3 separate regions of the Homo sapiens genome follow, and all the other regions are linked to region 1. Evidence: fine-mapped expression QTL. A gene starts in region 1. Each other region holds a variant in brackets. All regions are shown on one strand. Distances are from middle to middle.

Region 1 (8,191 bases):
AAACATCTTATTTTCACATAATCTATCCCATTTCTAGCTCCCTTCTTTAGGTCATTTGGATACTTTATTCACCTGCTGAAATGCCTTTAAACCTAATATGAAAGATTAATTAGGGAGCTTACCTATATTTATGAAATACTTGCTTTGGTATAAAGAGCAAAGTGGACATTACTCCATGTTCTTTTTTTTTTTTTGTCAGTCTTGCTCTGTTGCCCAGGCTGGAGGGCAGTGGCATGATCTCGGCTCACTGCAACCTCCACCTCCTGGGTTTAAGCAATTCTTGTGCCTCAACCTCCAAGTAGCTGAGATCACAGGCATGTACCACCCTGCCTGGCTAATTTTTGTATTTTTAGTAGAGACAGGGTTTTGCCATGTTGGCCAGGCTGGTCTTGAACTCCTCGCCTCAAGTGATCTGCCAACCTTGGCCACCCACAGTGCTGGGATTACAGGCATGAGCCACCATACCTGGCCTGCTCCATGTTCCTAATCAGCTAAGACCTGCAAACAAAAAGCAGCCTACTCAAGATTCATAGGAAGCATTTTTACTTACAATTCCTCTCCTCGTTTGGCTTTCTTGTCTGAAACCAGATAGACAGTTCCAAAACTTCCACTGCCAAGTTTTTGTTGAAGCACGTATCTTCTTGCAATCAAGGTCTTTGGATAAGTGGAAATGGCTGTTGATCCACTCACACACTTAGCTGCCTCTTGGAATTTCAGCATTGCTCCAAACAAGAGAGAACTGGTTCATTCATTTATAGAAACTTAACATTCCAGTCTCCTAAGAAATGGTCAAATTCATCCAGTGTTGGTCAGTTCCTTAAAGATGAAAAGTTAAAAGATCAGGTCTAAAGGTTGCTAAACGATGTCTAACAAAAAGTGTTAAGTGCAGTGATATCTGCACCTTGATCAGCAGACTGACACCATATTGGTTAACAACTTGAAAAAAAATGTTAAAAGGTAGAGATACCACAAATTCCAGAAGGCAATCTTTCACAGGAAGAGCCTCCCTTTGTACATTGAAATTTGGCAGAAGTGAATTATAGCCAACTTTCCACAAATTTCTGGGATGTACATCTGTTTTACAATGAGCAATCTCTTCATTTATTTAAGATTTATACTCCCCAACTACTTATAAAAGAATCCAAATACAAGAACATTATCACCTCCTTAAATCTATACATCTGCATCAACCTTTTTGTAATGCCCTCTTCTCACCTTATATTTACTTTGGTTTACAAAGAGTGAGTTAGGATTAAACAAGGAATTAGCAGGTGCTGTTTCCTTTAGATTTATTTTTTTCTGTAGATGTTAAACCACAGTTTTTGTATTTATTAGGACAGATGCAAAGAAGGATAAGGATTGAGAATTTTTTCCCATGCTCAGCAAATTCTAGTTTCTGAAGTTCCTATTGTACACATTGTGTATAATCTCTCTGGATTAAAAACAGGAAGAGTTACAAATTCAATTCAAACCTAAAATCCCATTTAATGTCAGTGGAATATAAATGCTACAGATAAATCTGTAATTCCTCAGGGAGCTATGAGACGTGGCAGTTATGAAAGGCAGGACTGTTTAGGCCGGGCGCAGTGGCTCACGCCTGTAGTACCAGCACTTTGGGAGGCCAAGGCGGGCGGATCACGAGGTCAGGAGATCGAGACCATCCTGGCTAACACGGTGAAACCCCGTCTAATACAAAAAAATTAGCCGGGCATTGTAGCGGGCGCCTGCAGTCCCAGCTACTCGGGAGGCTGAGGCAGGAGAATAGCGTGAACCCAGGAGGCGGAGCTTGCAGTGAGATCTCGCCACTGCACTCCAGCCTGGGCGACAGAGTAAGACTCCATCTCAACAAAAACAAAAACAAAAACAAAAACAAAAAAAAGAAAGGCAGGACTGTTTCATATGAGTAGGTACAAAGTAAAATCACTTTTATTTCATCAGAATGTTAAATGTTTTGTTAGTTATCAAGAAAAGTGTGCTTTTGTTTTAAATCTATATAGAAATAACATTTTAAATTGAAAACTGCCTACACCTTGAAGTTAGGTTTTCATATTCAACAATTCCAAAGCTATGAGACAAAAACCTAGTTTTTAAGGATGGTCAATGGGCTTTACGTGGTGGTGTCCGTCAACCACAAAAACTACTAGGGCAATTAACCACAAAAATCCTCAAAACAGAACATAAGTAAATGCCCATTTACAACATTTTCCTTCTTAAAATGTATGAATCAGTTAAGTTGTACCTAATACCAGTGAGATTAGTTACCAGCTTTTTCTTTTCCCTTCCAAAGACACGTTAGTAAAATCTGCTGGAAAAACAACTACAGAGCAGGCCTCTAAATATACCTTTTGTTTTTACTTCCCCTTCACTGTCATAAAAGTGATGCCGTCTGGCCATACTAAGCTGTTCAAATAAATATATGGACTTACAGACTTTCCAGCTGAAAAGGGTCCTTCAGGTCACTCAGTAATTCTCCTTATTTTAAAGATGAGATTAAGGTTCCTTTTAGAGAAGGACAGAATTAGGGACGGACAGAATGAGAAGTTCACTTCTAGCGGCTCTTATTTTAAAGGACAGTCTAAACCCAGCAGTGCTTAAGTAGTCTGGTCCAGGCTGCAGAAGACTCTGGGACTAGGTTCCCTCCCGCCCACCCTCACAGACTCAGCCCTGCCACCCCCATCCCAGTCCACTTTTAGGTCATCCATTCCATTAGTCTCCTCTGCGCAACCATAAACCTACCCAAGAATGTGTCGCATTGTCTAGATTCTAGAACTATCTGTTCACTTGACAACACGCTCCCCCTCGAGGTTTGAGTGAACTTGGGCACTGCGAACACATCTTCTTTATTTCTGCATCCCCAATCCCTGGCATACCTCCTGGCATATACTAGGTGTTTAACAAACCTTGTTAAGGCAAGTAAGTGTCCAGCAGATCAACTGCCGCCCAAAGGAGAGAAAAAAGGTTAGTTAAGAAAGCTAGATGGGAACTTGGAGAAAGTTACTACCTTGTGCAAACTACCCGTTCTCGGTGAAACAGATCTGGCTGGGGGCAAAAGACAACGGAAGGAGTATTTATCACAAGTTGAAAACCAGTAGTTATCTTCCCAGGTAATAAGAGGAAGGCAATTTGTCACCAGTTTCTGCTACAGCACAAATCTACCTTTAAAGTAAATCTTAACCTTAAGGTAAAACGAACAATTCCTTGCTTCTTCACCTTTTTAAACATTTACATTTTGGCAAAGCAGGTTAACGTTTATTGAGGGGCACTGAGACTGGAGTACATCCGGAGGTAAGATGTCCAGGAAAGCGAGGAGATCGCAGCCATGGCGTCCTAGAGATTCGGAACCCAGCCCGGGCAGCTTGAAACCATTACCTTCCCCCTCGCAGGGGAGCCTGGCTAGCCCCAAGGAGGACAGTTCGCTTTACCTTTCCCTGTCGTGGTCGGAGCGGCGCCCGGGGCTGCCCAAGTCTTGCGGGTAATCGGGCAGGCCTCAAACTAGGGGCAACCACACCCACCGAGCGCCAGACACCGCGGGCCACGGCTGTTTGGAACCGTGGCCAGGGAGACGGCGCGGGGCATACTGGGAAGTCGGGGCGAGGCGGCACCAAGGCGGAAGTGTTCGCCGACCCAAGTAGGCGGAGAAAGCAGAGGAGGACCGGCGGGCCAAGCTTTCCTAGCCTGACAGCAGCCATTTCGGAACGTACGTCCCAGCCCTCTTTAGCTACTTAGCGCCTCTGGGCCCGAGAACACCTGCTCCTTGGCTCAGTCTGGCGCCACCGGCATCACGGAACTGTACTTCCCAGAGACGTCACACCGGGAGACTTCCGATTCCCGCTCTTGAGATTGGACTCTCACGTGCAGGAGCCAGTCCTCGCTGGGCTCTAGCGGGCTTCTGATGGAGGAGCTACTCCTCTGGGAGGACAGAGTAGGTGGGCTCTGCTGCAGGTCCGGGCGGCGGGTTGTGAGGGCCGAGGTGGCACGGTGTATGAAGGCCTGTGTTTGAAGACTTAGGTCAGACCTTTTGCCCGCCTTTCCCCTATGCAGCTCTATGCAACTGTCTGTGCAAGGTCCTGTAATTTGCGTAGGACGCCTTGACACAGTCTCTGCTTATGGACGCTTTACAAAACTATCTTGCAAAGAAATAAGTACTATACAGGATAAGGTTCTGAGATACTGACAGGGCTGGAACTAGGGTGAGATAAGTGTAAAATGTAAATGGATGCCAATAAAATTCAGTAATCAAGGTAAGTTTTAATGCAATCTCTAAAAATCAAAATTATAGCAAAAAAAATCCATGACTGACAAAATGTCACGATTTTAAGTAATAGTAACAGTACCGTGCTGTGCCATATTGAAGCCCGAGGTGTCAAAAGAAAAACCATCAATTCTGATCCTGCGAGTTAAGTTAGCCAGGTGAGGAAGCGTAGCTGGGCCAGATATGCAAAATAAGATGATGAAAAGAGCTCGTGGTTAGGGGTGTAACTGGATAGAGGGGTTCCTAGAGGCATGAAGCAGTTTTCCTTATACCAAAAACTATGCCAATTAAGAAGGGCCCACAAATCCAAAGCCTGAAAGAAGTTCCGTGACTGATTGTCAATACAAAAGAAAAACTTGATCCTTATCATAGGTCCTACACACCTTACTTTACTGAAGCCCAAATGCTTTGTGATTATGAGATGAATATGATATCTTTTTTTTAGCTTAGGACTTTTTACTTTGACCCCACAAAACAAATACTCTGTGCTGTAAGATGTTGACTATTACCACTTAAGAATCAAAGTTCACAGAACTTCTATACTGGTGTGTCAGTAATGGACTTCAACTGATTTTTCTTTAGAATTAGCAGCAGCCTCTGTCACCATCCAAAGATTACAACCCATGAAACCATTGAATTTGTGCCTTGTATCAGAAAGCAAAGGAGAATGAAAAAGCACAGCTAACATTGCTTGAGGATCTAGGTAAGAATTTATGATGTTGATATCTATGTTCTATCTAAAGAGCACTTCATAACATTTGCTATTGATTTAATGGTGCTGGAAGCAATGACTTGGTGCCCCATAACTAGCATCAATTGAAAATGTTTTCTGTTGTTTTAAACAGGCGATTAATTCTTTAGACTGTCATCATGGGTATCCGAGGACTAATGAGTTTTGTGGAAGATCATAGTAATGAGTTCTTCACTGATTTGAAGTTGCGGGACACAAAAATTGTCATTGATGGTTATGCTCTTTTCCACCGTCTTTGCTTCAGTTCAAACTTGGATCTCCGGTATGGAGGGGACTATGATTCTTTTGCAGATGTTGTACAAAAATTCTTTGAATCACTGTTTGCTTGTAATATATGCCCATATGTTGTATTAGATGGAGGATGTGACATTTCAGATAAAAAGCTTACAACTTTAAAGGATAGAGCTAGAGAGAAGATCCAGATGGCCCATTCCCTTTCTGTTGGTGGGAGTGGGTACGTATGTCCCTTACTCATCCGGGAAGTATTCATACAGGTTTTGATCAAGCTGCGGGTGTGTTTTGTCCAGTGCTTTTCAGAAGCAGATCGGGACATTATGACACTTGCTAACCATTGGAATTGCCCTGTGTTATCATCAGATAGTGACTTTTGCATTTTTGACCTGAAAACTGGGTTTTGCCCATTGAATAGCTTTCAGTGGAGAAATATGAACACTATTAAGGGCACACAAAACTATATCCCTGCCAAATGCTTTTCCCTTGATGCATTCTGCCATCACTTCAGCAATATGAATAAAGCTCTACTACCTCTCTTTGCGGTGCTATGTGGAAATGACCATGTTAATCTACCCATCATGGAGACATTCTTAAGTAAAGCGCGTCTTCCTCTTGGAGCTACCAGTTCTAAAGGGAGGAGACACCACCGAATCCTGGGACTTCTGAATTGGTTGTCTCATTTTGCCAACCCTACCGAAGCACTAGATAATGTTCTGAAATACCTCCCAAAAAAGGATCGAGAAAATGTTAAGGAACTTCTCTGCTGTTCCATGGAAGAATACCAACAGTCCCAGGTGAAGCTACAGGACTTCTTCCAGTGTGGTACTTATGTCTGTCCAGATGCCTTGAATCTTGGTTTACCAGAATGGGTATTAGTGGCTTTAGCTAAAGGCCAGCTATCTCCTTTCATCAGTGATGCTTTGGTCCTAAGACGGACCATTCTTCCCACACAGGTGGAAAACATGCAGCAACCAAATGCCCACAGAATATCTCAGCCCATCAGGCAAATCATCTATGGGCTTCTTTTAAATGCCTCACCACATCTGGACAAGACATCCTGGAATGCATTGCCTCCTCAGCCTCTAGCTTTCAGTGAAGTGGAAAGGATTAATAAAAATATCAGAACCTCAATCATTGATGCAGTAGAACTGGCCAAGGATCATTCTGACTTAAGCAGATTGACTGAGGTAAGTATTTGTAATACTAATGAAATTTTTGTAAAGTACTTTACAGGATACAAAGTGCTGTCTTCTATATTAGTTCACTTACTATAACAAACTGATGAGGTTGAGTGCTATCTTGCCCTCATGTCGTAGCTAAGAAATCTAGAACTTGAGTGAACTAGGTAATGTCTTAGCCAGAAAGTGTCAGTGCTAGGACTCAAACCTAGCTCTTTTAGCTCTAAATCTACCATTTCCACTGTACTTCAGTAGTCTGTGTTATCGTCACAGTTATTACTACTATATTGTTATTACTACCAGGTTAATACTAGCTATCAATAGAATGGGTTACGTGGCTGAAAAAAAAAGGAAAAAAATTCACAACTGCAAAAAAAGTGTATAGACACTAATCATAGGCACAACATCTCAGACTACATCGGATTTCAGATAAGGTTAGTACTGATGCTAAGGTCTAATTTTTTAACTTTTATTAATGAATACCTTTTTTAAAATAGGTTTTTGTGTCATTATGGTTATTTGCCTAGTTTGATACAGAAAACATGACTCTTAGTCTAACTTAGTGTTGCTTAAACCTGAGTAACACCCAGACCACCTTTTCAAGGAGAAAAAAATTCTCATGGATCCCAGTGTTGTCTTTTTATATTACATATATATTTAAAATTACAAATAGATATGAAACTATGCTGATAAAAGAACTAGATTTAGACATTAAATAGAGATAACTTAAAAAAAAAACAATTGCAATGCCCATTAGGGGATCTTCTTAGATCCAATGAAATATTCAGTCTCACAAAACTCACAGACCACACGTGGCACCAGTCTACTTAAGGATGTAGGACGGCAACCACAGCTTCCCAGTGGATTTAAGTCAGGTCTTCCTTTTCTGTCAGAGTTCTCCCAGCACTGTTATCAGTCTACACCAAAGCTTTATCACCATTGGTGATTTTGTCCCCCAGAGGACATCTGGCAATGCCTGGAGACATTTTTGTTGTCCCTACCTAGGGAGTAGAAGGGGTAGTGGTTGCTATCGGTATCTAGTGGGGAGAGGCCAAAGATGCTGCTAAATTTTACAACCTGTAAGTCTTACAGTGCACAGGAAAGTGTCCCATAACAAAGAATCTCTAGCCCAAAATATCAGTAGTGCCATTCCCTGGGCTATACAGCTGACCAGGAACTAGCCTCTTAGCCTCCTCTTCAGTCACATCTCAGACAGGAGGAGATGAATGTCATAGTGAATGAGTGCAAGAGCCTTCTTGGCATTGGGCAGTGAGTCCAAGAGCCTTCTTGGCATTGGCGAGTGACTGTTAAACCCCCAGGGTTTCTTTGGTTGGGGGTGAAGAAAATGTTTTGGAATTAGTGATGGCTGCACAAGTTTATAAATATACTAAACCAAGGCAAGATGGCTCATGCCTGTAAGCCCAGCACTTTGGAAGGCCAAAGTGGGAGGATCACTTGAGGCCAGTAGTTCAAGACCAGCCTGGGCAACACAACAAGACTGTCTCTACTAAAAAAAAAAAAAAAAATTTTTTGCCAGGCATGGTGGTACAGCTACTCAAGAGGCTGAGGTTGGAGGATTGCTCGAGCCCAGGAGGTCAAGCCTGTAGTGAGCTATGATTGTGCTCCCTGTTGAGCAAAACCCTGTCTCTAAAAATATATATACACTAAACCCACTGAATTGTATGCTTTAAAAGGATGACTTTTATGACATATGAATTATACCTCAGTTAGATAAAGGAGAAGAAAAGGTTTCAGTAGCTTAAAAGCCCCGTTCCC
Region 2 (8,191 bases), 120 kb after region 1:
GATGCTAAGGCTCTACAATAATAATTCAGACAAACACATGGGTTAAGTTGACCTCATACATCATTTAAAGAGCTGTAAAAGCATTCTCAGTGTAAACCTGTTGCTAAAAAGGTAAACATTATCCTAAACTGCATTATGAGAAAGATAGCTTTTTAGTCCAAGCGAGTCAATGAGCCTAGACTATTTCACAACAATCCAACCATACCTTGAGAAGTCTATATTCAGTTTAGGGCATCATTAGAGCCTGCTACCAAGCATGGCATACTATGGTGACATTTCTGGAAATGAGGTCTTAAGATGATCAGTGGAAGGAATTAGGAATATTCGGCCTAGAGAAGTATGAAGGGCAGTACCTGACCATTAATTGGATTTCAATAAAGATTTCTAAATAAAGGATATGACAGGTATCTTCAAATATTTTAAGATATGTTACATGAAACATGACATTCTCCCTAAAGACAGAACCAGCATCAACAGATAAAAAGTTTCCAATCACCAGGAAGTTTCTAGGAGAGATGTTGGTGCCATTTCTATATGGGGTGGGAAATTGGTCCCCTCACCTTAAAAATTCTAGGAATGGTCTGGCAAAATCCAGAGGGATCTCACTGCCTCCTTACTGCCTGTGGTACTAAGGTTTCTGAAAATGTATCAGTAACCTTTGTTAAGGGAGATACTATGAAATGGTTACCTTCTTCACTGAACCTTAAGTTCCAGAGCATGAACCCAAAGAACAGTGGCATAATCAGGCTTCAATGCTCTTAAGTATTCTTAAATATTCTTTGTACTTAAAGAATTAAATATTCTTAAATATTCTTCATTTGATAAATTAAAAACTAGCACAATCACAACTCTTAAAAGATAAATCTTATTTTTCTCCCATACTTACAATATGTAGAAATGAAAAATATGGTTCCAAATACTATTAAATATTTGTACCCAAGAACTAATTCTAATCCATTTTCCACACAGCAATAAAAATCACAATAAAATGCATTTACCTCTGGATACCAACAGGGATTATATACAAAACAATCAAACTGCTCTAGAGACCAACAGATATTATATATAAAACAATCAAACTGACAGAAAAAAACAAATATTTTATTCCTAAAGAGTAGTATTAATTTTAATTTTACTTGCACTACTGAGTCATTCTTAATGATTTTTCAGAAAACAAAAACCTGCTCATTGTTTTAAAAAAAGTCAAGTAATGAGAAAGGATTTAATGAGATTTCCAGTTCTACTGCCCAGAAGTAATCTCTGTTAACTATTTCTGTGTATACTGCCAGCCATTTTCTATACAGGTGTGTATACAAGTATTTCTGGTGTTTTTTTTTTTTAATTTCTAATAGAACCACACAATAACAAATTTTGTCATTCAATACATCTTGGACTCCATGTCACCTTACATACTAACCTGCCTCATTCTTTTCAGTGGCTCACAGGGCATTTCATTGTATGCAGTACTTCAATTTTAACTAGTCCTCTTGATGATATTTAGGCTGACTCCTGTCTTTTGGTATTACAAATGTTGCTGCAGTAAACATCCTGTACAAACTTCTTGGTATATTTGTGCAAGTACAGGTACAGAATACATTTCTGAAAGTGAAACTTTGGTTGTTCATATTTTTTATTCTGATAGCTACTGCTACTGATCTCCAAAGGGACTGTGTCAAAAACTTCAAACTCAGAAGCTTCTATTTTCCCCACAGTCTAGCCAAGACTAGTCATCACTACACTCTAATCTTTGCCAATCTGACAAGTGAAAAATTATAATTTTGTTTTTAATTTGCATTTCTTCATGACTGAGGTTGAACATCTTTTCATGTACCTTTTGGCCTTCTATTTCTGTGAAATGCTTGTTACCTAGAATAAGGTCACACCCAAACATAGTACTCAAAAAGTCTTATGTTTGTACCTAAGTAAGAATATTATATTCTCAAAGTAAAGGACAATTCAAGGCAATGCTTATGAAAATTCCAACTGCCTTTTTAACAGAAATGGACAAACTGATTCTAAAATTCATATGGAAATGCAAGGGATCCAGAATAGACAAAACAATCTGAAAAAAAAAAAAAAGAAAGGCAGACACTGTTAAAGGTCTCACACTTCCAGTTTCAAAATTAACTTACTACAAAACCTACAGTAATCAAAACATTATGGTACTTACATCAGCAAAGACATATAAACCAACAGAATAGAATTCAGAGTCTAGAAATAAACCCATAATTTCTGGTCAATTGATTTTTGACAAGGGTGCCAAGACATTCAATGGAAAAAGAATAGTCTTTTTAACAAACAGTATTGGGATAACTGGATATTCTATGCAAAAGAATGAAGGTGGGCCCTTATGTCACATCATATGCAAAAATGAACTCAAAATGGATCAAGCGTGAGAGTTAAACTATAAAATTCTTATAATCTTCATCACATTGAATCAGGCAATGGTTTCCTAGATATATAAAGCACAAACAATAAAAGAAACACATATATAAATTGGACTTCATCACAATTTTAAAAGTTTCTGATGTAGAGGATACCATTCAGAAAGTGAACAGGTAATCCACAGAATGGGAGAAATATTTACAAACCATATCTCTGATAATTATCTTATAAACATTGCTGCAGTGAACACTCTTAGGTAAACATCTTTGTATACTGGTACAAGTATAGAATATATTCCTATCCAGTATCCAGAATAAACGTATGTGTGTGTGTGTGTGTGTGTGTACACACATATATATAAAGAACTCTTACAACTCAACAAAAAAGTAAATAACCAAATTACAAAATGGTCAAAAGATTTGAATAGACATTTCTCCAAAGATATACAAATAACCAATAAGCACATCACACTTCCTAGTTGCAAAACTAACTTATCGCAAAATCTACAGTAACCAAAACATTGTGGTACTTGGATCTGCAAAGACTTATAAACCAACAGATTAGAAGTCAGAGTGCAGAAATGATTTTTGCATATGCTGTGAGATAAGAGTCCACCTTCATTCTTTTGCATGAAGAATCCATGCAAAAGATCCTTGACACATCATTAGTCATTTGGGAAACGCAAATCAAAACTACAATGTGAAACCACTTCATACCCCCTAGGATGCAATGGAAAAAAAAAAAAAAAA[C/AC]AGCAAAATGTTGGAGAGGATGTGGAGAAATTAATTAAAAGAAAGCCTCATACACTGCTAGTGGGAATGAAAAAATGGTTCAACCACTATGGCAGTTACTCAATAAATTAAAGATAGAATTACCATGACCCAGCACTTCTACTCCTAAGTATACACCTGAAAAAACTGAAAACATGTTTACACAAAAACCCATACATGAATGCTCACAATAGTGTTATTTTTTGACAAAAAGTAGAAACTGATGAATAAACAAAATGTGTATATCCATACAATGGAATATTATTTCATCGCAAAAAGAAATGAAGTACTAACACGTGCTAGAAGCCAGACATAAAAGGTCACATATTGTATGATTCAATTTATATGAAATACCCAGAACAGGCAAATCCATAAAGACAAAGTAGATTAGTGGTTACCAGGGGCTAGCGAAAGGGGAGAATGGGAAGTGACTGCTAATGGGTAAGGGGTTTCTTTCTGGGGTGATAAAAATGTTCTAGAATTATATCAATATACAATTTTGTGACTATACTAAAAACCACTGAATTATACACTTTAAAATGACAAATTTTGTGGTAAGTGATTCTATCTTGAAAAAGAAAAACCCAGTAAAGGACAGGGTCTACAAAATACTTCATGATTTACCACAGCTATGAGAGAATTAGTATTCATACTGTAGGTGGCTCCGGGTCTAAAACTGTGCATACAGAACAAATAAGATTTAGTCGATGGGCATGATTTCAAGCACTGACAGTTATGGGGCCACAGCTGATATCAATTCCCAAGTGTAAACGATGTAGAAATGAGAGCTGAAACTAAGGAACCAGGCAAGCAAGCCCAAGAGAATGATTGCCAAAGCACATGTCCTTTAACTGCTGTCTGGCAAAGCAATTACAGCTGTACCCAACCTTAAGCAAATCCAGTCCTTTTAAGAACACATCTTTATCATAAATAAATGGGAGAGGGATACTGTGCTATGATGAAACAGGATGTAGGAGGAACTTAAAACAGCATACAAACAATAACAAGTGAACCTAATTTTATTACAAGTGACTAACATAACCCTTAGGCAGGGATGAAAAGAACCCAAGTAACTTCTGAAAACAGAATTTGCCTGTATACCATAAAGTTAAAGACAAATATTGTACTCTAGTTTAAAACTGTGTTTCTCACCAGGGAATGAATAGGTCACTAATTCTAAAACTACTTTTGTTTGTGTGTACTCGGATGAAACAAGTAAGTCAATATACTGTGGTTGAGAACAGTTTCTCACCTTTGGAGAAGGAAGTAACAAAGAAAGAGAAAAGGGCTGAACAGGAAAAAAGACCAAAATGGACCCTATGGTGGAAGAACAGAACTGGCAGCATCACTGGCAGTTTTTTATTTATATACATAGATGGATAGATAAGAAAATAAAAACATATGTGTTCATACATGTTACCAAACATATACACTGCTAGCTCTATCTACTAAGAGAGCCTAGAAGCAATGACACCCAGTAGCATGGAGCACACCTGGCACCCAGATCTTGGTTTCTAGATATCATTCTCTAGTAAAATGAACTCAGCTCCCTGGAAAAATGGTTGATTCCATGGCTGGTGCAAGCAGGAAAAATACAAGATACACCCAGAACATCATGTGATACCAGAAAGTAAATTAGTGCTCACAAAATGAGAGAGGGTATTGTAGAAAAGACACAGGAACAAATTTTCAAGTGCCCTCAATAACCAAAGCGAGAATGACTTGAGCAACAATTACTGGATTTTAACCCATAAGGCAAAATATCCACAAAGCCATGTAAATAAATTAATTGGATAATTAATAAGTAAAGAGGACAGTACTTCCTTAATTGTAGAATTCCAAATATAGTAAGAATGAGTGAAATAGAAAACTCGCCATTAAGCAAAGACCAAAGCAGTAATAACTGCTGCCAGTTAAGAACCATTGATAGATAGCAAAACTTGCCCATGTAAAGTATGATGGAACACAGGATATTGCAAAACTGGCCCATGATAAGTATGATGGGACACAGTATATTTGCAGTACCTCCCCACTAGAGGAAGGTATTAATTACAAAGGAATTACTAATTATTATACAACTACAAGGTTAAAATGAACATTTATTATTACAAAGGAAAAAGCAGTAACTTTACAATGAAGAAATCTGGCAGACACAGCCTTAACCAAGTGATCACATTAACTTCACCCATCATAAGACATGCTAATCACGGGTGAAGATCTGACAACCCCATATTGAGAAACATTCTAAAAAATAACTAACAGTACTCTTCAAAAGTGTCAGTAACATTTATAAAAGATGAGAGAAAAAAAAGACTGAAAAGCTTAACAGATGGGAGGAGACTAACATGATGATAACTAAATGCAAGGTAGGATCCCAAATTGGATCCTGAACTAGAAAAAGGATAGTTTATAAATGTGAATGTCCTGGTTTTAATAATTATACTATGGTTATATAAGATGTTAACATTAGGAGTAACTGGGCAAAAGATATCCAGGACCTCTTTGTACTATTTTTATACCTTTTATGTAAGTCTAAAGTTATTTCAAATTTTAAAAATCAACATAATTTTAGAAGATTTTAGAAAAACCTCTCAAAGTAAAGTAAATCTTTCTACCATAATTGAATTTGCATCCAACAGTTAACTACATCTGAATTATACTGCCACTCTGGGAAGAATTTGGCATTTTTTGATCATTAAATTAAAAAGTGGGCATAATACTCCATCTACTGATACATCTGTTTGTATAAATTATTCTAGGTTTGAAAGAAATTTGGTACAAGGATGGAGGAAAGGGGTATCATACCATCTACATATTTTTTAAACCCGTCCATTTTGTTGCCATCCTATATTAAGCATGCAACCAGTGTTTTTTAAAGCCTTCAGTGAGCAACAATTATTTTACTAGCAATACAGAAGATGGAAAGGAAAGGAAAGGAAAGGAAAGGAAAGGAAAGGGGAAAGGGGAAATGGGAAAGGGGAAAGAGGAAAAAGGAAAGGAAAGGGGGGAGGAAGGGGCAGAAGGAAAGAAGGGAGGGAGGGAGAGAAAGAAAGAAAGTTTTTTTAGATTCCTTTATACCTTCTCCTAATACCTCCCCCACCATGACCAATGACATTCATTTCATAAAGCAGCTAACTGGTGAACCTAATTTTACAGGCTATGACAAACCAAACCCTTATGAAAAGACATTATGGTGGCATTCTTAACACCCTGTGCTTCCAGACCTAAATAACTACAGGTACAATGGGGAGCCACGTAAGCCTTTAAAAGCAGTTGACAGTCAAATACAATTTAATATCATTTAAAGCTACCAACTTTGAATCCTATAGGGTTAAGTTAACCGATAATTTATTTGCTGTCACAAAATGTACTCTGTTATTATTTTCCATGTTTAAGTGGTGTTCCTCAAAAGCTAATTTTTCTAACCAACTAATTAATGAATGGAATATTTAAATAATCTTAGTTTAAGATGAAAAACAGGCAGGTTATTTCTAAATTCCACCTGCAATTAATAAAACGTACATTAGTAAGTCCAATACATAGTTTACCGAACTCAAGGACTTTTACCTACAGTAATTCCATTCTATAGATGGAGAAAATAATGTATAGTAAGAGTAAACCGGTTTTTTTCCTAAAAGGAAAGAAATAGCAGCAAAGAATTCCAGTGACTCCCTAAAAATGAGAATGCCACACAACTATGTACATGTAAGGAGACTTTAAACACTGAGGCTATGACTGGAATAGATCACTAAGGGATTGGTATTAGAGATGAAAATATCGGTGGTCCTGTCCCTAACACCACTGAAACATTCAACACCTTACAAAATAAAGGGAATATTCAACACCTTACAAAATAAAGTAAAAAGACACCCGACAAGCAAAAGAAAGCCACCTAATGAAGACCCTAAAAAGGAAATCTAAGGAAGAGTTCTGACTTCGGGGGGGGTCTAGTTAGAATAAATGGATAAAAAGGAAAAAGGCAATAGACATAGGAGGTCTAGCATTTTCCATGAGAAATAAAATTCAGTACATTTTGGTCTTGATTTCAAAGAATAGTAAAATTGCTTCCAAACAATAACAGTTCTGTGAGCAATAAATAATACATAAAATGTATTTACAGGCTAAAAAGTAAAATTTAAGGGCTTAACTTCATTGATCTACACTAAGGGTTTAACTTCATTGTCTACTGCTAGGTGAACACTAAATACTGAATCCTGAAATAGTACAAACCCAAACCAAAGTATAATCAAAATCATAATTTGATAAAACCATGAGAAAAGCATTAAGATTATAAAAGCTACTCTATGTTTCCTAGGCATCCCACTCACCTCTCAGAAAAAAAAAAAAAAAAAAAAAAAAACAAAAAAAAAAAACGTGAAGCCTTGAAATTAGCAGTTAAAAGACCAAAAGTAACTCCCCTAAATCTATTCATCAAGTAAGGTAAGGGAAATTAGGATTTGCTGAGAGGCTCTTTCATGCCAGGCACTTGTACACACCCTGCCTGGTCTAATTCTAACAAACCTGAAGTAGTCATAATCTCTTTACAAGTGAGGAAACCAAGGCTTAGAGGAGTCAACTTCCTTGCCGTTTGTTAGAACAGTGTTTCTCAATCTTGGCACCATTGACATCTGGGGCTAAAAAATTTTGAGGGTGGCGGGGGGAGGTAGAAGATGCTGTCTTACGGATTGTAGCATGCTTACCAGCATCCCTGGTCTCTACACACTGGATGCCAGTAGCATACTTTGAGTTGTGACAACCCAGCATTTCTCTAAACATTGCCAAATGTCCCCCGGGGGCAAAACAATCCTGAGATGAGAACCACTTAGAAGGAAGAAGCCAGCATTTTCATTCAATTGACAGTAGGTACGTCCCAGAGTCTGTTCAAGATGAATAAAGGACAAATTGAGGTCTCTGCCTTCAAGAGCTCACTTTGAATCCTGGTGCTTGATTTAACACCTCTCTCCATGCATAGCTATATGAGCCTCACATCATGACAGTCTGACCTATATATTCCCTTCAGCCAGCCCCTAAATCGGCTC
Region 3 (8,191 bases), 60 kb before region 1:
CTAATGTTTTTGATGAAATGTAATGCGTTGGTCTAAGAAATTCTTATTACAATATCTGTAAGTATATTCTGTTTTCTTAACTTTGTCCTTGAGAAATATTTAATAGTGACTTTTATTGCTAAAATAACTTTCATGAAAAATGTATTGACTTTAACTGACCCAAAATTAATATTGCCCTAAGTCTATACAGCTATCAAAAAATGTTTTCCTTCACTAAGATTATCCCTTGAAGGTTGCAATAAAAGACTTGATGTTAACTTCTAAGGTTTTGAAAATCTGTAACCCAAACTGTAACATTTGATGGATTAATAGTATCTCCTCCTTTCACCATCCCAGTTAGCCAATGACAGATTGCCTTTGAAATGTCGAGGCTTTAAAGAAATGAAGAACAACCCAAATTCAGTGTTCTTAACCCCACCTTTGATCGTTATTATCAAATTTTAAATCCTAAAAGGATTTGATTTTAAAAATTAATCCTTGTATTAACATTGGCAATCAAAGCACTTACAACCTTAAAAGACAAAAGAAGAGCATTCTCAGAAGCCTGAATTTAAAACAAAAACAAAAACAAAAAAACCCCTGCAATGTTTAAGGCTAAAAGGAACTTCAAAAATTATTCTGTCCTGCTTTTTATTTTAAAATGAAAAAGCTTCCGTTATTAATTCGCTGGACTGACAACTTAAAATGCTCTTCCTTCACACCCTACCATATCTCCATTAAATAAGCATTCTTCCAGTGGACCTCAAATATTATGCATCAAAATCTTCCAAGTTGCTTGTTTAAAATGCATATCCCTATTATCATCAACTATCATTATCATTATCATCAATAACTCTGACTCAGTAAATGCAGATTGGGTGCAGTGGCTCATGCCCGTAATCCCAGCACTTTCGGAGGCCAAGGCAGGCAGATCACTTGAGGTCAGGAGTTCGAGACCAGCCTGGCCAACATGATGAAACCCCGTCTCTACTAAAAACACAAAAATTAGCCAGGCGTGGTGGCACATGCCTGTAATCCCAGCTACTCGGGAGGCTGAAGTAGGAGGATCACTTGAACCTAGGAGGCAGAGGTTACAGTGAGCCAAGATCCCATCACTGCCCTCAAGACTGGGCAATAGAGCAAGACTCCATCGCAAAATAAAACAAAATAAAATAATGAAAAAGCTTCCCTTATTAATTCACTGGATTGACATTTTAAATGCTGTTCTTCATAGCCTACCATATCTCCATTAAATAAGCATCCTTCCAGTGGACCTCAAATTTTATACATCAGAATCTTCCAAGTTGCTTGTTTAAAATGCATATCCCTAGACATTAGCAACAATAACTCCAACTCAGTAAATCCACATAGACCCAAGGAATCTGTATTTTCAACAAGCATCCTTCGTGACTCTAGGACAGGTGGTCCATGGAACAAACTTTGAGGCATGATGCTAGGCAATAATATAAACAGGCCATGTACTTAATATTTAGCCTGTCAGTGGAAACATTTTGTCTAAAATTTGAACAACTCCAAAGGCAAAAGATGTACTTGAGAAAGGCAGGGCTGAATAAGAGTCATTTTACAATAACATGTTTTTGAAACTCTGTTTCATTACTTAGGAGAATACCAATAAATGGAGGTAAAGGCAGTGAGGGAGGAGATCCTTTGTCATTATATTGTACAACCCAAGGACATTTTCCTAGAATTTTGGAAGTGCACTTTAAGAGACTGCATAAAACGTGGGGGAAATGTCAAGCCACATTATGCTCTTAAAAGCAAAACAAGAAAAAAACCAGCTTCTAAATAGGTACTGAAGAATGCCATGCAGTATTATGATTTTCATTTCTAATAATATAAATGAACATCTTGAGTTTAGTTAGTATTTTTTTCAAATTCTTTTAGAGATAGTGTTCTTTTTGCTGAGGTAAATGTAGATGAATAAGAAATGGCAGAACTTATTCTTAGGTGATATGAAATAATGTGAAATAATGCTTTTATCTATAAAGCACAGGGTTTTTTAAAAAAAAACCATTTGAAATAAATTAGTGTGATTCTATTTTTAAACACTTGTATTTATATAAATTCATATGACAGCTAAAGCCTTACCCCAAATGTCATAAACTCTACTGGGTTTGCAGATTGCTTTCTATTAGTGCATTAGTGCATTTCTTTTCAATGAAACTAGTCTTGCTTTTCAATTGTTAGATTTAACAATTTTAGGTAAAAATCAGTGGTCTTATTTTTTATTGTTTTTCATTAAAAGGTCAAAATATTTCATAGTTTAAGAAAGAAAGTAAATGGAACAAACCAAATGACTTTAATTTTGATACTTATAAAAATCACAAATGGATCAGTTTAGGTATATAAAAACATTAGACACTCGTATTATTTACAGCCTTCCCCAACTGGACAAAATCTAGACCCATAGAATTGACACAGGATAAATTCAGGGAGGCCTACCTACTCCTAGATGGAGCTGCCCAGGAAAATCAGAGGGCCCCGATGGGACCCACCACTCTGAAAACAATGCTTAGTTCCTTCAATCAGCAGCAATCCCAGCAATGCAAACCACTGAAGACAGTCCTGAGGTGTGGACAGCCCCAATGTGTGGATGCCTGATTTGAGTTCACAGTAGGAAGGATGATCACCAATCAATGTCACAATGGTCAAATTCCAGGGGTGTTCCTCATCTATAAATAACCAATTCTGGGGGGTGGTGGTCCCAAACAGGCTTCAGGACTATAAGCAGTTGTTCTGAAGCACAGAAAAGGATTTGTTTCTAATACTAGACACAACACACCCAATATGAAGTTCTACAAGGACCCTCTGAGAACTAGTAAGCCTGGTGGCTGCACGTCATTGCCAAATTTACTTCTAATAGTCTATTGACACGCACTAGAGATTCAAGATTGCAAAACTCAACCCGCTTACTTGGTTTGTTTAAATACTTTTGCATAAAAAAGAAACATATGAGGAAATTTCAAATGTTCCGTTTTATAGTACAATCAGTTCGGAAAGTACTTGCCTCAAAGTTACTAGCAGGCCTATTAGTGGTTAAGAATTTGCGGCCGGGCACGGTGGCTCACGCCTGTCATCCCAGCACTTTGGGAGGCTGACGTGGGCGGATCACAAGGTCAGGAGATGGAGAACATCCTGGCCAACATGGAGAAACCCCATCTTTACTAAAAATACAAAAATTAGCTGGGCGTGGTGGCACGCGCCAGTAGTCACAGCTACCCGGGAGGCTGAGGCAGGAGAATTGCTTGAACCTGGGAGGCAGAGGTTGCAGTGAGCTGAGATTGTGCCATTCATTGCACTCCAGCCTGGCAATGAGGTGAGACTCTGTCTCAAAAAAAAAAAAAAAAAAAAAAAGAATTTGCATATTTCTTCCTTTTGGCATGAATCCTCATACTAAAGGCTGCACGACAAAATCTCAGAGGTAAAAACTAG[C/T]TTTACTTCTAGAAAACAGCCGGAGGGAGGAAAGGGGGGTGAGTAACAGTGAAATAACGAACAATTATAATAACTTTCATTATTGAAAATCTACTAGGAGAAAAGCTCTGATAGTCACTTTTTCAACATTCATTATTTCAAATCCCTATAAAAACAAAATATATGTTATACTCTCTTAAGAAAAACGGGTCAGAGAAATGAAATAATTTGCTGAAGGAAATGGACAAAGATTTGAATAGGAGATGCCAAAGTCTACACACTTCCCACTATTTAAAACCTTATCTAGTCTTCCATTGAGAGAAAATAATCATATCATCACATTAAAATTTGCATTTGTGTACAAATAGTTTATGTGAATATGTATATGTATTATAGAAATAGAGATGGATAAAGACACTGAAAATAATTGAGAATAAGCCAAGAAAAGGAGCATCTATCCCAATACCCCTGGTCCTAGTTCTGCCCTGGATTTAACAGTCAGAAAATCACTCCACTTTCTGGGGTCCTGTTTCTTCATCTGTAAAATGGAATTAATAAGCAAGAATTTACTTCTCCTCAAAAAAGGATAGGGGCATGTTAAAAAGACACAGGAGCCAATCTGAAGGAACCCCATTAGCCAAAGTTGGAACAATTTGAGCAACAAAATAAACAGTGACGGTACTGGGTGTAACCCATATAATATTTTAAAATCCATGAGTTCATACTAATATAAATAAATAACTGAAAAAATACATGGATGGAGGAGAAGCAGCAGCTCTTCCTTACAGTGGAATACCAATTAGTAAATACAGAAAGAATGAGAGAAATATATAATCACAATTAGGTAAAGAATAGAGAGTAAGAATCGCCACAGGCAACTTCACTGAAAGAGACTAAAATTAATGAGTGAAGATTTGAAAAGAAACAGGCTATTATTAATAGAAAACTCTCAAACTATCTTACCCAGGATATTTATCAATTTCAAAGGGAAAAAATAGTAACTTTACAGTGAAAAACCCCACAAGACAGAACCTTAACCAAGTGATCAAAGTTAACATCATCAGTAATAAGATACAGCTGGTACCCCTTAATATGATGTACTGAGAAGAATACAATACTACTATTGTAGTAGTCTTGCCAAGAATATGTAACCTCAATCTAATCGTGATAAAACATTAGACAAACCCAAACTGAGAGACATTCTACAAAATAGCTTGCCAGTTACCCATCAAAAGTGTCAAATTCATAAAAAACAAGGCAGGAAAGGGAAATTGTCACAGATTAGAGGAGACTAAAGAAATAGAACTAAATGCAATGTAGAATCCTGGATTGGATCCTAGAATAGACCAAAGGCATAAAGGGGAAAACTAGTAAAATATTAATTTTCCTAGTTTTGATAATTATACTATGATTATATAAGTTGTTAAAATTAGGGAATGTATTTAACTGCAAACATATTACAATTAAAGGTGAAGTACTGGGTTCCTAAATCACATCCCATGCTTTTCTACCTCTGAGCCTTTTATCACATCATTCCATTTAGCTGAAATGTCCTTGCTCTATTCTTCTTGGCCTAATCTTTCCCGTACTGCGAACTCAAATAGAATGCTAGCCCCTTCATGGTTCCCATGGTCAGAAGTCATTTCTCTCTCCTATTACCCCCACAGCACTTTAACCATACCCTTCCCATAACACATACCACACTCCCCCTTGTATTTTAGCAACTGATATAAATGACTCATTAATCCTACCTGAAAATTCATTAAATATTATCATATTATCTCTGTTATGCCACACAATGACTATAATTGTATCTGACACAGATCTGGGGCTCAGTAATGGCTTTTGGAAAGTCCCTTGATTACAATTGCCATTGTGAACTTCAAGTTCATAAGGCATCAATAAATAATCCAGATTGCCAACGTATTCATACACAATGAGAGCTAAAACTGCCAAGGCAATAGGGAACTCATCTCAGGTTAGCCAGCATATTTTTTCCTATTAGAGGAGACATATATGGAAAGCTAAATTAGGATCAGAAGGTTGCCTGGGAAGCAAGGAGAACAAGTTGTGCAATTTTCGTGAATAAGAGCAACAGGCTAAATGGCTTGATCATAAAACTACACTCACTACAGGGCCAGACTCTCTTGTTCTCAGCTCTGGGCCTCATCTTTGCTTAGTGCTCCACCAATAATGACAAATTTTTCCTTTATGACTATTTGTCTATTTCCACACTAACTATTCTCTCCTTTTGAATTTTTAAAATTATTTATTTTGCCATTCTCAGCCCTGGCTGCATTTTAGAATCACCTGGAGAACTCTCAAAACCCTGATGCCTGGGCCATTTCCGAGGATCAATTAAATCAGACTTTCCAGAGGTGGGCCTCAGGCCTCAGGATTTTTGATAGCTCTTCAGGTGATTCTAAGATGCAGCCAATGTTGAGAACTAGTACTACATTGATAAAATTTTTATTTACCTATGTTAATGTCACCAAGCAGAAAATAGAGAAGTCCAACATTTCCTGCCTTTTTCCCTATCATATGTTCTCTCCACCACAACCACTACCACCACCCTCTCCTGAAGATATGTGATCTCACCCATTCTCTAGTGTGTCTACTAATTTAATGCCTAGGTTTCTGGAGATGCCTTGTCTTCACCCAAATGGAAGACTTTCAGGCAGTATCTCACAGGTCTCCAGTGCAGCACATTGTTAGGTATATCAGCACAGTAAGGTAGGACAAAATACTTTTAACATATACAACAGGTAGAAGGATTCAATATTTTATCATTACCATTAGTGTTTGACAGAAATCAGGTGGGAGGCAGCTGGAACCAAGAGGTAAAGAATACATCAAAAAATATCTTGAGTGCTAACTTCTTTGTGGTTCACTATGTGGGTCCACGATGTGATAGAAAAATGAATCAGAAAAAGATCAATCCCACATGCTGAGAATCTGACATGGCTCATATGATGTAAACTGTGCTTTGTACCATGAGAGATAAAGATTCTGTGAGAGTTGAGGGGATTGGGATTGGGGTGGGGAGTGATTTCTAGCCACGAGTTTATGAGAGGCTTTGTTTATGGGAAAGGAACCTTGTTTATTGGAAACTTTGATTATGAGAGAGGAGGTGGCATTTAAGCTGGGCCTGGGAGTCAGGGTAAGATTTGAAGATGTGGGACTAGGAGGAAGGGCATTCTCAGAGGATATGGCCTAAGCAAAGATGAAAAGGTGTGAAACTGTGGAGGATGGGCAGTAGTTCCATTTCCTTCCTACATGGAGGAAAATAGAAGACACCAATATTTGAAATATTCTGCCATTCTGGTAGTTTTGGAACTATTCCCCATCAAAGATTTGGTTAAATCTTGACCAGAAATTATGAGAGTTCAGTTGTCTGCTGTTTTACACTCATAATCTGATGTATGTGTCCAAAGGGTTAGGTAGTAGATGCAGAAGCCTCACTAATGCATTTATATATTTCAGTCTTGAAAGGCCCCAAATTAAATTACAGAAGAGGGAACCTGGAGATAAAGAGATAAGCCATTTCAATGGTAGTGATAGCATTTTTCTATGAGGTGCAATTTTGGTCACCTGCCATTTCCTATACTATTATTTTACCTTAATAAAAAGGATAACACCAGCCCTGTGCCAGTTAAGAGTAAATTTGGGTCTGATGATGAGAAATATCTCTGTTAACAAGAACGGAGCAATCTGTGCAAGTCACTCCTCAGGAGTCCAGGGAAGTGGCAACCTGCCAGCTCAGTGGCACACAGAGCCCAGGCGGCCCCACAGCTGTCTCTCAGCACTGCCAGCAGCCATCACCATGGCAACAGCCCCTCCCGGGAGAGCAGCTCAGCCCACTGAAACCACCCATCATTTAAAAATCAACACAGATGATTCCGGATGAGATCCTCTGCAACAACAACAAAAATCTTATAGAACTGTCCCTTCTAAGAATGTAATTCAGACAATATAGACTGTGAATTAGATGGGTGATTCTCGAAATTCAGTATGCTTTGGGCTCATTTGGCAGGCTTGTCAAAACACAGATTGCCAGAACCCCACCCCCAGAATTTCTGATTCAATGCAGCTGGCTGGGGTAGAGGCAAAGAATTTGTATTTCTAGCAAGTTCCCAAGTGATGCTGATGATACTGGTCTGGGGTCACACTTTGAGAACCACTGGGTTTCATACTAGCATTGTATCACTGTTGATTTCCTGATTTTGATTACTGTACTATGGTTACATAAAAGAATGTCCTTGGTCTTAGAAAATACTCACAGCTGTATTATATTTAGGACAAAGGAGCATCATGTCTGAAACTTATTCTCAAATGGTTCATTAAAAAATGTAGGTAGAAAGATAAAGCAAATGTGGAAAAATAACAATTTGGGAATCTGGATAAAGGGCATATGGAAGTTCATTGTGTTACTCTTGTAACATTTCTGGTAGTTTAAAATTACATTAAAATTATAAATTTTTTCAATTAATACAGGGAAAGAAAGTTATAGCAACATATACTATGTATGTCTAATACGGTAGCGAGGAGCCACATATGGTTATTTAAATTTAAACTAACTAAATTTAAATAAAATTTAACATCCAGGCCCTCAACTGCACTATCCGCACAGCAAGTGCTAAAGAGCCATGTATATGACTAGCGACTACTATATTAGACAGCACAACTATAGCCCATTTCCATCAGCACAGAAAGTTCTGTGAAATAGTGCTGACTACAGTTTAAAATATTCTAAGACATGGAAAGAGTCTTTGAAAAAGTC

Which allele goes with the higher level. Positions count from the first base shown, and alleles are read on the strand shown. Sizes are in standard deviations (SD) of each study's normalised expression. Not every link is listed here.
In carriers of allele C in region 2, the expression in Th2 cells of the gene that starts at base 3,552 in region 1 tends to be lower than with AC alone (large effect, 1.2 SD a copy in Schmiedel 2018).

What was found.
Region 2: its variant is fine-mapped to the expression of NEK11 in Th2 cells (Schmiedel 2018, PIP 0.95).
Region 3: its variant is fine-mapped to the expression of NEK11 in whole blood (INTERVAL, PIP above 0.99).

The regions. Positions count from the first base shown.
Region 1 is chr3:131,022,238-131,030,428 of GRCh38, reverse strand. It overlaps NEK11 (NIMA related kinase 11), which reads right to left and starts at 3,552. Exons shown (of 18, transcript NM_024800.5): 1 at 3,423-3,552; 2 at 2,427-2,499; 3 at 551-816. The coding sequence starts at 720. ASTE1 (asteroid structure-specific endonuclease 1) reads left to right here and starts at 3,604. Exons shown (of 6, transcript NM_014065.4): 1 at 3,604-3,922; 2 at 4,835-4,955; 3 at 5,098-6,424. The coding sequence starts at 5,123. RefSeq lists enhancers at 3,243-3,432, 3,513-3,572, 3,713-3,952.
Region 2 is chr3:130,901,619-130,909,809 of GRCh38, reverse strand. All of the region lies in intron 2 of ATP2C1 (ATPase secretory pathway Ca2+ transporting 1), which reads right to left. Among named protein-coding and RNA genes, the nearest start is that of ATP2C1, 12 kb to the right of the region's middle. The variant C/AC (reference allele first, on the strand shown) is at 3,135.
Region 3 is chr3:131,082,399-131,090,589 of GRCh38, reverse strand. The region is part of intron 4 of NEK11 (NIMA related kinase 11); the gene reads right to left. Among named protein-coding and RNA genes, the nearest start is that of NEK11, 60 kb to the right of the region's middle. The variant C/T (reference allele first, on the strand shown) is at 3,433.